Linked DNA regions of Homo sapiens. The protein of the gene in region 1 purifies or fractionates together with the protein of each later gene. This does not show direct contact. Each region holds a gene or a part of one and is shown on either strand. Other genes may lie near its edges.

Region 1 (3,500 bases):
ATGAACCCCACTTGCAGAGCAGCATAGGCAGCTTTAATTCTAGAAACTCCCTTCTTTCTTACCAGGTAAATCAGGAAAAAAGGTCCCTGTGGACCAGAGTTGGGGGACTGGGGGTGGGAGGAATGCTAGAGAGAAAACAGGCAAAAAAAAGAATCTCTTAATTCAATGTATGAATCCAAATAAGTCACAACTTAACCTTAGCCATGAATGTGTGGCATATACCCATACGTACCAGCCTAGCAAAGACTTTGAAAACCAAAATGAGATTTGAACTCTAATGTGACCCAAACCAAAGCAGCAAAAGCTTGGAGAACTGAAATAAGATTGGAAACACCTGCAGAAGTCTCAGACCAGCCCCTAAGCTATTCATGTTTGGGACAGCTCAAATCAACATAGCAAAGACATAAAGAACAGAACCGAGATTTTAACAAATGCCTCCAAAAGCAAGACAGAAGTTTTGGCCTGAACCTGAAGCAGGGTGGCCTGCTAAAACAGAAACGGCAACATTCCCCAGAAGAATTATAATAGGACCCAAAATCTACACAAAAAGTATTCACAATGATGAGGATAAATTCCAAAATTATGCAACACATAAAGAACCAGGAAAATGTGAGCAATTTTCAAAGGAACAAATGACCAAAACATGCCAGCCACAAGGTGATCCAGATTTTGGGACTATCAAATACTGTCAACAAAAAAGAAATACTTTCTTATAAAGAAAACACACAAGAAATGAAGGAAAAGGTGGGAATCATCAGCAGAAAAAGAAACCATAAAAAAGAACCAAATGAAATCTTAGAACTGAAAAATACAACATCTGAAATAAAAACTCATCAGATAGGTTCAGTAATAGAATGGAGATGACAGAGGAAAGAGTCTGTGAACTTGAAGACCGTTCAATAGAAATGACCCAGTCTCCACCGGGCACAGTGGCTCACGCCTGTAATCCAGCACTTTGGGAGGCCGAGGCAGGCGGATCACAAGGTCAGGAGTTCGAGACCAGCCTGATCAGCATAGTGAAACCCCGTCTCTACTAAAAATACAAAAGAATTAGCCAGGCCTGGTGGTGGGTGCCTGTAATCTCAGCTACTCGGCAGGCTGAGGCAGGAGAATCGCTTGAACCTGGGAGGCGGAGGCTGCAATGAGCAGAGATCGCGCCGCTGCAGTGAGCAGAGATCGCACCACTGCACTCCAGCCTGGGCGACAGTGCGAGACTCCATCTCAAAAAAAAAAAAAAAGAAAAGAAAAGAAAAAAAACCAGTCTGAAGAACAAAGAGAAAAAAAGATTGAAAAACATTCAACAAAACCCTAATACCAAACGTTTTAACTTAAGTGTAGTTGTAATCCCAGAGGGAGAGGCGAAAGATACTAATGCAGCTCTCGCTCTCCCTCTCCCCGCTCTCCTCCCTCTCCCTTCTTCGGTCTCCCTCTGTTGCCAAGGCTGGACCATACTGCCGTGATCTCACCTAGCTACAACCTCCCTACCTCGGGCTCCCCTGATTCTCCTGCCTGGGCCTGCCCAATGCCTGGGATTGCAGGCACGCGCCGCCACGCCTGACTGGTTTTTGTATTTTTGGTGGAGACGGGGTTTCGCCGTGTTGACCAGGCTGGTCTCCAGCTCCTGACCTCGAGTGATCTGCTCGCCTCCGCCTCCCGAGGTGCTGGGATTGCAGACGGAGTCTTGCTCACTCAATGCTCAATGTTGCCCAGGCTGGAGTGCAGTGGCGTGATCTCGGCTCGCTACAACCTCCACCTCCCAGCCGCCTGCCTTGGCCTCCCAAAGTGCTAAGACTACAGCCTCTGCCCGGCCGCCACCCCATCTAGGAAGTGAGGAGCGTCTCTGCCTGGCTGCCCATCATCTGGGATGGGAGGAGACCCTCTGCCCGGCCGCCCCGTCTGGGAAGTGAGGAGCGCCTCTGCCCGGCCGCCACCCCGTCTAGGAAGTGAGGAGCGTCTCTGCCTGGCCGCCCATCATCTGGGATGTGACCAGCGCCTCTGCCCGGCCGCCCTGTCTGGGAAGTGAGGAGCGCCTCTGCCCGGCCGCCCTGTCTGGGAGGTGAGGAGCACCTCTGCCCGGCCGCCACCCCGTCTGGGAGGTGAGGAGCGTCTCTGCCCAGCCGCCACCCCGTCTGGGAGGTGAGGAGCGTCTCTGCCCGGCCGCCACCCCTTCTGGGAGGTGAGGAGCGCCTCCGCCCGGCCGCCACCCCGTTTAGGAGGTGAGGAGCGCCTCTGCCCGGCTGCCACCCCGTCTGCGAACTGAGGAGTGCCTCTGCCCGGCCACCACCCCGTCTGGGATGTGAGGAGCGCCTCTGCCCGGCCGCCCTGTCCGGGAGGTGAGGAGTGCCTCTGCCTGGCCGCCCCATCTGGGATGTGAGGAGCGCCTCTGCCCGGCCGCCACCCTGTCTGGGAAGTGAGGAGCACCTCTGACTGGCCGCTGTGCAATCTTCCAAGTGTGAAGTGACAGCCTTTCTGCAGGTGTACCCAACAGCTCCGAAGAGACAGTGACCATTGAGAATGGGCCATGATGATGATGGCGGTTTTGTCGAAAAGAAAAGGGGGAAATGTGGAGAAAAGAAAGAGAGATCAGATTGTTACTGTGTCTGTGTAGAAAGAAGTAGACATAGGAGACTCCATTTTGTTCTGTACTAAGAAAAATTCTTCTGCCTTGGGATGCTGTTGATCTATAACCTTACCCCCAACCCTGTGCTCTCTGAAACATGTGCTGTGTCAACTCAGGGTTAAATGGAAAAAAAAAAAAAGAAAGAAAGAAAGATACTAAGGCAGAAAAATACATTTGAAAAAAAAAAGGTGGAAAATCCCCCACGTTTGGTCAGATATAAATTTACAGATTCAAGGAGCTCAACAAACACCAAATAGGATAACTCAAAGAAAAACATACCAAGATACATCTTTTTGTTTTGTTTTGAAACACAGTCTTGTTCTGTTCTCCAGGCCAGAGTGCAGTGGCACATGGCTCACTGCAGCTTGGACCTCTCTGGCTCAAGTGATCCTCTCACCTCACCATACCCGAGTAGCTGGAACCACAGGTGCACACCATCATACCCACTAAATTTTTGTGTTTTTTCATAGAGACAGGGTCTTGCTATGTTGCCCAGGCTGGTCCAAAGCACTTTTTTTTTTTTTTTTTTTGAGACAAGGTCTCACTCTGTCACTCAGGCTGGAGTGTAGTGGCTCAAGCACAGCCTCCACCTCCCAGGCTTAAACAATCCTCCCACCTCAGCCTCCTGAGTAGCTGAGACCACAAGTGTGTGCCACGGTACCCAGCTCATTCTTTTGTGTGTGTGTGTGTGTGTGTGTGTGTGTGTGTGTGTGTGTGTGTGTGTGTAGAGACAGGGTCTCACTTTGTTGTCCAGGCTGGTATCAAACTCCTGGGCTCAAGCAATCTTCCTACCTCAGCCTCCCAAACTGCTGGGATTACAGGCATGAGCCACGGTACCCAACCAAGACACATCTTAACGAAACTATTCAGCCAGGAAGGG
Region 2 (2,243 bases), on another chromosome or scaffold:
TTCTTGGGGACGTGGTATTCAGGCAAAGGCGCAGTTATTTTTCACAAGCCTCCTCTGACAAGAACTGGACATCAATCCACTGCCACCCGGGGCTTCCAGGTTCCACTCGAAGACCCAGAGAGATTTTAAACTTTCTGGGAAGTCTTGCTGTCCCGCTGTACACCTTTTTGGGTTTTTCTCCATTTTAATGTTTTCCCACGGCCAAAGCAGGGTGTCGGCTGCAGACTGTGCTGCAGGGGCCGGCCACCAGGCTCTCCAGGTGCGTTTTGCTTTTTGACCTTGGCGATGTCGGCCTCCATGCCGCTTGAGTATTCCGAACGTAGGATTTCAGCGAGGCTGTGTTTACTCTGGGTCTTCTTATGAAGGTCAGGCCTGAAGAACAGTAACAGCAGAGAGGGAAAAGAAACTTTATTATTTTTCTTTCCCATTTGGAAAGAGGCTGATAGCAGCTGGTTCTGAGACTGTGAAGCTGACATTTTTGTATTAACAGAAGTACAATCCCTTCAATAGTACTTGTTTTGATATTCGATGCACCAGAAGATTAGATACGGCGCTGACAGATTTTCATAACAGCGGCAAAATATCATGGCATTTTTAAAAGTGAGGCTTTGTTCTGTGTTGTTTTCATGGGGAAAAAAAGAACTATACACCCTCATGCTCTGATGGCAAATGAGGTGTATGATACAGCGGTTTGCCAAAGGACAGGGAAAAACCCACCGTCACACTCAACAACATGAAGCAGTGAAAGCTCACGGCAGCTTCCCAGTAACCCCTAAGCAGCTTAAAGCAACTGGCCTCCTCATGGGCTCCTGAGGGCTTCAGGACTCAGCCCTGCGGGAGCAGAGTCCAGCAAGTTCCACGCAGCCCTCCAGGGTTCCACAGTGAAGGCTGGGATGACAGCCAGATAGCTCTTTATGAACGGAAAAAACTCTTAAACATATTTCTGACCCTACAAAACCCAAACCCAGGGCACAGCCTGGTCAATGTCTGCATCTAGGATTAGACCAGCAGCTTTCTGCAGCCCACACAAACCCGGGTGTTAGAGGGAGGTCTCTCCCTACCCTAAGTCACTCAGAAAATGCCAAAGGTTGAAAATCAATTTCCGATGTCGAATCCTGATAACTGTTCTGAAAAGATGGCAATTTTACCATTTGATCGGAAGATCAGAGGAGGAAATTTGTAGATGTTCAATCATACATAAGAAGAATGATTATGAAAACTGAAGAGTAAAACAATGTTTCTTAAGACAGGATTTTAACCAAAGCAACAACAATAAAACAATTACCAATAAATCCACACTTCCTTGCTGGCAACTCCTTCAATACCAAAACGGCAATGTCTTAGGATACTATAGTGTCATGGAGTTCTCACAAAGACATATGTTACGTTCTGCTACTACATTTAGAGCATTTTCTTTGCTGTAATCAGAGAATAAACTGAACTGAAACTGTGGTCAAAATAAATGTAACAATGCCTTTAAAACCCAAGAATTAGAAATAAGACTAATAGTGTGTTGTTAACCTGACTGTGAAAGCTTGTAGAAACCCATTATAAACGAGCTAAAGCAATAATACCTGTTTCTAATCACACTCCAGAGGACAGGGTGACAGTCATACAATGGTGTTTTCTATTGCAACATACAGGAAGACACATTCAAGCCAACCTCTGCAGGAAAAGAAGATCTGAAACAAGGGGACAATGAACAGATAACATTTAAAGGCCAGGAGTTTATGGGGTGAGCACATCAGGGCAGGATGTAGTGAGAAGATTAGAAGTATACAGGGAAGACTTCCTGGGGTCTGTGGGAAATGATTCACATACACAATCTCTTACAATCCTCGCTCAACAAGGTGGGTACGGTTATTATCCTCATTTACAGACAAGGACACAAAGACTCAAGGAGGGTAACCTGCCCCAGGACCACATGGCTGGTAAGTGGAGAAGCCAAGAGGCAAACTCAGGGCAGAGAACGATTTGCCGGGTCAGCGGGGGCAGGACTCAGCTGGACCAAGGGTGGAAAATGGTGAGATGTGATGGGAGGGGTCCTCTGTGGTCTCCTAAGGACTACTTCAGCAGGACAGTGGGGCAGGAGCCAGGCAAGTGAGTAGGGAGTGGTGAGGGGAGACAGCAGAGCTGCAGGGTGGAGGAGGGAGAAGCCAGGGTTGGAACTTGACTATCACTCATCAGCTGAGGACACAGAATGAGTGACTCAGGCTCTGTGCCTCAGTTTCCTCACTGAGAAT
Region 3 (3,500 bases), on another chromosome or scaffold:
CCAGGCCACATAGTGAATAAATGGTAGAGCTGCGATTTGAATGCAGGCAGTATGGTTTCATAGTCTTTCTTCTTTACTATTCACCAGTCCCCAGAACAGTTTTTCAACTGTATCTCAAGAACTATGGTGCTTTGTGAACCTTGAAACTTCTGCAGCCTGTGCACCTGTTTGTAGGTGAGCTGGCTTTGAAGTTGGTGGGTCAGCATCCCTCTTACTCAAAACTAACTGCTACTATATTTTTAGCAAATAGCACTAACTTGCTTAGCTTTAAAGCAAACTACTTCTATTGATCACCAAACATAAACTATTGACCTGGGTCATTACTTTTATATTTTCTACTTTTTTTTAAAGTTCCTTTTGAGTGTAAGAAATTTGGAAGAAGGTAAGCTTTGAATGAAAGAGCAGATCATCTCGTAGGCAGCATATTTTCATAAAGAAATAGTAAACGTTAGTAAAATCCAAATGTGACTTGATATAGAAAGAAGGGGTTGAAGAAGTAAAGGTGCCTTGTCAGAAGATGGTTGAAGTAGAATTGGAAGTGTTGCTCAATTGAGCATTTTTAATAGATATTCAGCAGGCATTAACTGATTAATGGGCTTATTCTGCTGGGCACTCTGCAGGGCCCCATATCTTCCCTGTTTTCAGAAACATTTCTAAATTGAGGAGGTTTGCCCAGGATACGGAAATAAGTGAAAAACAAGTCGTGATAATCTGGTGGTGTAGCGAAGAGGGGCCTTTCAGTGATCCCCCAACCCTCTGCAATTAGGCTTTGACCAGTATTTAATCATGTGGGGTTTTTTTATTGTGTATGTGAGATATGTGTGTTAGGATATTTATGTTAACTTTCCTATGTCAATCTAATTCAGCTGCAGATGGGACCTGTCCTGGTACAGAGGGGGAACAAAACAACTTGTATTTGGAGCAGTGGAGAAAAATTCAGTTTTTAAAGACATAAGGAAAGCTTAGTGAGCAAAAAAATTTCCTTACAGACTGATTTTTTTTTTTTAATTTTTAGGTTTTGTGGGTACGTAGCAGGTATATATATTTATGGGGTACGTATTTTGTTATAAGCATATAGTGCATAATAACCACAGGGTAAATGGGGTATCCATCACTTCAAGCATTTAGGGACTGATAATTCTAATTTTTAAATTTTGATTGTGAGCTAGCTTTCCTTGTTGTCATATAATTACAAGTCAGTAACATGTCCAATATATTTTTCTCATCTTTCCACGTTTCAGGAGACCAGTTTTGATTTTAAATGTTCTCAATCCAGACTAAAGACAACCAAGTATTCTTCTCAGAAAGTGATAGGAACTCCTCATGCCAAAAGTTTTGTGCAAAGATTCCGAGAGGCTGAGTCCTTCACACAACTTTCTGAAGAAATCCAGATGGCAGTTGTATGGTGCAGGAGCAAAAAACTCAAGGCTCAGGCCATTTTTCTGGGTAACAAACTTCTTAAAAGCAACCGGCTTAAACATCTGGAAGCTCAAGGTACTAGGTAGGTATATTGCAAAAATTATGTTACTTTACTTTTTCTGTTGTTGTTATGAGTAAAAGTATTCAGGTCACTTTTCTTTAAAATGTGATGTCCAGCAGCCGCAGCGGGGCTAAATTGGGATGTACTCAAACTGCAATTGCATTTGCTGCTTTTATTGTAAGAGCAAAGCTGTATCATTGGAGGAAGAAGATAAACAAGTTAATTGGACTTCAGTCCCCGTTATGCTCTTCATCATTTCCATCAGCTCATTCAGGAACCATTAAGAGTGTCTAGTGTGCTGAGCCTGAGGATACAACTGCATAAAGACGTGACTTGGTCTTCAGGGAGCTCAGGGTCTTCTGGGAAAGGCAGCCCTTCTGCAGACAGCTTCAGTGCAGTGCAGTGGGATAAGGGCATGAGAGCAGAAGCAGAAGGTGCCTGCCTTCCATGAGGCCCACACAAGACTGCTGGGGTGTTGTACTGTTGCTACTTGCTACTGTTTGTAGCAGCTGGACTCTATCTATATTTCTTTTCTGTGATTTTTATATTCACAACTGTTTAAGGGTGCTTATCTTTGCTTGTGAACCAGTATTGCATGAAGTATTACATGAATTTAGACATTAGACACTTCAGGGCTTAACGGTAATGATTTCAGACACAAATATGTATTAAGAGCCTATTCCACCTTCACAGAGGCAATTATTCTGACCTGTTTTTTATTGTATTCTTTAACAAATATCCTGTGCATGCCCCATAATTTCTTATCCATAGTTTAGAGCTATTCAGGGATTTAAAGTTCATTCCTGGGGATGAACCACGTATTGAAAATTTGTTAAATTTTCTTTTAAAATTTGCATAAAATATATTCCTGTTTTAGAAAAAAAAAAGTATACAGTGAGGGTTTTGTAACACATTTTGATTAAAAGCTATGGGGAAAGTGGTTGAATATTCCTGAGGGATAAAGTGCTTGAGGGGTTTTTACATTGAGATGGCTCCTCTAAAGGTCTGTAATAATCTAAAAGTGATGTATCCTATGGCTGGAGACGCAGCCTGAGATGGAGAGAAGCATTCTGTTTAAAATTGGGTTTAAAATCAAGGGTAGATGAGGCAGAGGTAACAACTAAAAGTTAATGAGAAGGGTAGCAAACTGGTGTTTATTGGTTAAACCATTACTCAGTACTCCCCCAGATATAGTGCTCCTTCATAGATTGCCCTGTTTTGCTGTTTCATTAATATATTTGTAGTAAACTTTATAATTTATTTAATGTCCATAATAACATTGTGAGGTAGACAGTATTATTCCCATTTCATAGATGGGTAAATGGAGGATTTTGCTCAAGGGGTTAGATGTGGAACTCAGTTCAGGCCCTCTGTTTTCCTTTCAACTCTGAAGTACACCCACCTTCTCCCCACTTAAAAGCCACTGCTTATAGTGAGATAAGAAAATGGTATGGAAGCAAAGATCATGATTTACTTTATTATAATGGGCTTCCTCAAAGTTTTATATCCATGCCCGTCTTTTAAAATCTATCACAAACAGTGAAACAATTCAGCAAGGCACTGATGAACCTTGTGGCAGTGTACCGTGTGTGGAAGCAAAACACCTAAAATGATCAGCTGTTTGATTTCTGAATTTCCAAACTTGAAGATGACATATGAATCATAATTAGGGTAGCTTAAGGCTGTCTGTGTATCTGGGCCAGAAGCCCTGTCTTCATATTGTTTTATAAACCCCTCTTAGCCTTTATTCCTTTTTCCTTGTTCATTTCCTGCCACAGCATGAAGCTGATTATCCAGATTCGGATTAATACGTACTGGCAGATTTTTTCATTTGTGATGTTTCCTCATGTCCACTCATTACATTATGAACAGATTAGCAGTTATGAGGGAAAAGCTCTGACACTAAAGTATAGGGTATCTCGCCATTCAGCTAATTGCTAGGCGGCTGTACTTTTGAGAGTTTGAAAGCAAAATGGGGACACATTCGTCTACACTTCAATCAGAGGGCATTTGTGCTCTC
Region 4 (3,500 bases), on another chromosome or scaffold:
AAGGTGTTAGCCACTGCAATACAACAAGAAAAACAAAAGGCATCCAAGACTGGATAATGATCATCTTTGCAGAAAATACCATGGAATCCTCAGAAAACTACTTGGTGGAACTAAGTTGCAGGACACAAGATCAATATACAAAAATCCATCATATTTCTACTTATTGGCGACAAACAATCGGAAATAAAAAATTTTAAATTACCATTTACAATAGAATCAAAAATATAAAATGCTTAAGGATAAATCTAACATAAGATGTGAAAAATCTATATACTGAAAATTTTAAAACATTGCTAAGAAAAGTTAAAGATCTAAAGAAATGGAGAGATACCATATTCATAGACTGGAAAATTAAATATTGTTAAGACGTCATCTATCCTCAATTTGCTCTGTAATCAACAGAATCCCAATCCAGATATCAGCTTACTTTTTTTGTAGAAACTGATATAACGGATTCTAAAATCCATATGGAAGGGCAAAGGCCTACAACAGTCAAAATAACTTTTAAAAAGAACAAAGTTAGAGGACTCATACTACCTGATTTTAAGACTTATTATAAAGCTATTATAACCAAGAGAATAAGAAACTGACATAAAGACTAGACAAACAGATCAATGGAAAACAAAAAGACTCCAGAGAAAGACCCACACCTATATGGTCACAGACTTTCAACAAAGATGCAAAGTCAACTCAGTGGAGAAAGAATAGTTTTTCTACAAATGGTGCTGAAATAATTAGCCATATGCAGAAAAACCCACAAACTTTGATCCATACTTCTCACTCTAAATAAAAGTTAACTCAATAAGGATCAGAGACCAAAACATAAAACCTAAGACTATTAACACTTCTAGAACAAAACACAGGAGAAATCTTTGTGATCTTGAATTAGGCAAAAGGTTCTTAGATAAAACACCAACGGCACCAAAAGCATAAATTCATAAAAGACAAGGCTAATTTGGATTTCATCAAAATAAAGACTTTCTGCTCTTTGAAAAACACTGTTAAGAGAACGAAAAGATAAGCCACAAACTGGGAGAAAAATTTGCAAATCTCACATCTGATAAAGGACATGTATCTAGAATACACAATGAACTCCCAAAACTCTACAACAGAACATCCCTATTTTAAAAATGGGCAAAATAATCAAACAGACAAATAAGCATATGCTAAAATGCTCTACATTGCTAGTCACTAGGGAAATGCAAATTCAAATGACAAGGAAATAATAGTAAAATTTTAAAAGTCTAAAATAAAATTAAAGACTGAGCATACCTAGTTATTGACAAGAATATGGACCAACTTGAACTCATACCACCTAGTGACAACGTAAAATGGTATAATCACTTTGGAAAACTCTTTAAAAGTTACATTTACCACAAGACCTAGCCATTCCACACCTAGGTATTTATCCAATAGAAATTAAAGCACATATCCATACAAAGACTGGTACAATAGTATTTACAATAACTATATTTGTAATAGCCAAAAACAAGAAAAAGCACAAATGTCCATCAATAGATGAACAAACTGCTCTACCCACACATTGGAATACTATTCATCACTAAAAAGGAATGAACTGCTAGTAATTGTAATAACATGGCGTAATCTCAAATTATGCTGAGTCAAAGACTCAGATACCACCCCCTCCAGTACATATTATATGATTTCATTATATAAAATTCTAGAAAACGCAAATTAGGCCGGGGACAGTGGCTCACACCTGTAATCCCAGCACTTTGGGAGGCCGAAGCAGGCAGGTCATGAGGGCAGGAGTTTGCGACCAGCCTGACCAACATAGTGAAACCCCGTCTCTGCTAAAAATACAAAAATTAGCCAGATGTGGTGGCAAGTGCCTGTAATCCCAGCTATTCGGGAAGCTGAGGCAGGAGAATCACTTGAACCCAGGAGGCGGAGGTTGCAGTGAGCCGAGATTGGGCCACTGCACTCCAGCCTGGGTGACAGAGCGAGACTCCGTCTCAAAAAAAAAAAAAAAAAGAAAGCAAGAAAATGCAAATTAATCTATAGTGATAGAAAGCCTATCAGTGGTTGCCTGAGGAGGAACAAGAACTGAGGGAGGGAGGGAGGGACAACAAAAAAAACCCAGGGTATCTTTTTGGGGGTAATGGATATACAGTTGACCCTTTAACACAAATTTGAAGGTAGGGGTCCACTTATACACAGAATTTCTTCCACCTCAGCCACCCTGAGACAGCAAGACCAACCCCTCCTCTTTCTACTCAGCCTACTGAAAGTCAAGATGAAGATGAACACATTTATGATGATCCACTTCCATTTAATGAATAGTAAATATATTTTCTGTTCCTTACAATTTTCTTAATAACATTTTTTCTCTAGCTTATGTTACTGTAAGAATAAAGTATATAATACAAAATATGTGCTAATAGACTGCTTATGTTATCTGTAAGGCATCCAGCCAATAATAGGCTATTAGCGTTTAAGTTTGGGGGGAGTTCAAAATTATACATGGATTTTCGACTGCACAGGGGACCAATGCCCCTAATCCCCACATTAAGGGTCTATTTATTATTGCATGGGCAGTGGTCTGTTCACAGCCCCAGATGGATGACTTATCCAAGTCGTTTTGAATTCTGGACTTGTAGATTCACAACCTGACAGGAACTGTGGTATACATCCAAATGTCAATCTCTGGCCACAACGGCTCATATAAACCTTGTTTCTGCCTTCCACGGACTTACTTCCAGGACTCTGCTGCACATACCAAAGCAGTGTAGCAGAATGCTTAACAACACACAGAACTAGCCTGGAATCCATACACTACCATTTCAGTTGTGTAATTTTAGGGAAGCTGTCTATGCTCTGTGAGGCTGAGTTTTCTCATCTGTAACATGGGAATAATGGTACTTACCCCAGGGTGGTTGTGACAACCGATTTCATCAACATAAAGCACTTAACACAGTGCATGACACATCTTAAATGCTCAGTAAATGTTCTAAGTTATTATCTCCATTCCCCTTTCCTGTAGTTCCTCACTCTTCCATCTATATGACTGCCACAGAACATCATCCTGAGTTTCCTGACCACTGTTCCAGAAACCCAAAGCACGTGTCTACTGAACACTTAAAATGTAGTTACTCTAAAATGACATGTGCTGCAAGTTTAAAACACACCAGATTTTGAAAATTTAGTAAAAAAAAAAAAAAGAACATAAAATATCTCACTAGTTTTTAACTTTTAAAAAATGTGACTCCTAGTAAATTTTAAATTACTTATGTGTTTCACATTATACAGTCACCCTTCTGTAACCGTGGGTTCTGCATCTGTGGATCGACAATATTCGGGGGGGTAAAAAAAAAAAAACTGTATCTGTACTAAACACTGTACAGACTTTTCTTGTCATTATTCCCTAAACAATACGGTGTAACAATTTACATAAGACCTATGTTGTATGAGATATTATAAGTAATCGAGAGATGATTTAAAATATACAGGAGGATGTGCCTATATAGGTTATATGTAAG

What was found. Proteins that work in one complex are often made in the same cells at the same time.
Region 2: the proteins of ZNF512 (region 1) and DDX31 purify together in Homo sapiens (affinity purification with mass spectrometry; 2 studies listed by BioGRID and IntAct, with this or other methods). This does not show direct contact.
Region 3: the proteins of ZNF512 (region 1) and RMP64 purify together in Homo sapiens (affinity purification with mass spectrometry; 2 studies listed by BioGRID and IntAct, with this or other methods). This does not show direct contact.
Region 4: the proteins of ZNF512 (region 1) and DDX24 purify together in Homo sapiens (affinity purification with mass spectrometry; 2 studies listed by BioGRID and IntAct, with this or other methods). This does not show direct contact.

The regions. Positions count from the first base shown.
Region 1 is NC_000002.12:27,593,042-27,596,541, reverse strand, and holds part of ZNF512 (zinc finger protein 512), read right to left. Parts: intron 1-3,500. UniProt on the Homo sapiens protein: May be involved in transcriptional regulation.
Region 2 is NC_000009.12:132,594,741-132,596,983, forward strand, and holds part of DDX31 (ATP-dependent DNA helicase DDX31), read right to left. Parts: intron 1,683-2,243; coding exon of another isoform or gene 1,628-1,682; exon of another isoform or gene 403-1,627; intron 373-402; coding exon 126-372; 3' UTR 1-125. UniProt on the Homo sapiens protein: May have DNA helicase activity and RNA helicase activity. Probably have ssDNA and RNA dependent ATPase activity. Plays a role in ribosome biogenesis and TP53/p53 regulation through its interaction with NPM1.
Region 3 is NC_000003.12:113,006,172-113,009,671, reverse strand, and holds part of RMP64 (nucleolus and neural progenitor protein), read left to right. Parts: intron 1-1,241; coding exon 1,242-1,501; intron 1,502-3,500. UniProt on the Homo sapiens protein: May play a role in cortex development as part of the Notch signaling pathway. Downstream of Notch may repress the expression of proneural genes and inhibit neuronal differentiation thereby maintaining neural progenitors.
Region 4 is NC_000014.9:94,074,703-94,078,202, forward strand, and holds part of DDX24 (ATP-dependent RNA helicase DDX24), read right to left. Parts: intron 1-3,500. UniProt on the Homo sapiens protein: ATP-dependent RNA helicase that plays a role in various aspects of RNA metabolism including pre-mRNA splicing and is thereby involved in different biological processes such as cell cycle regulation or innate immunity.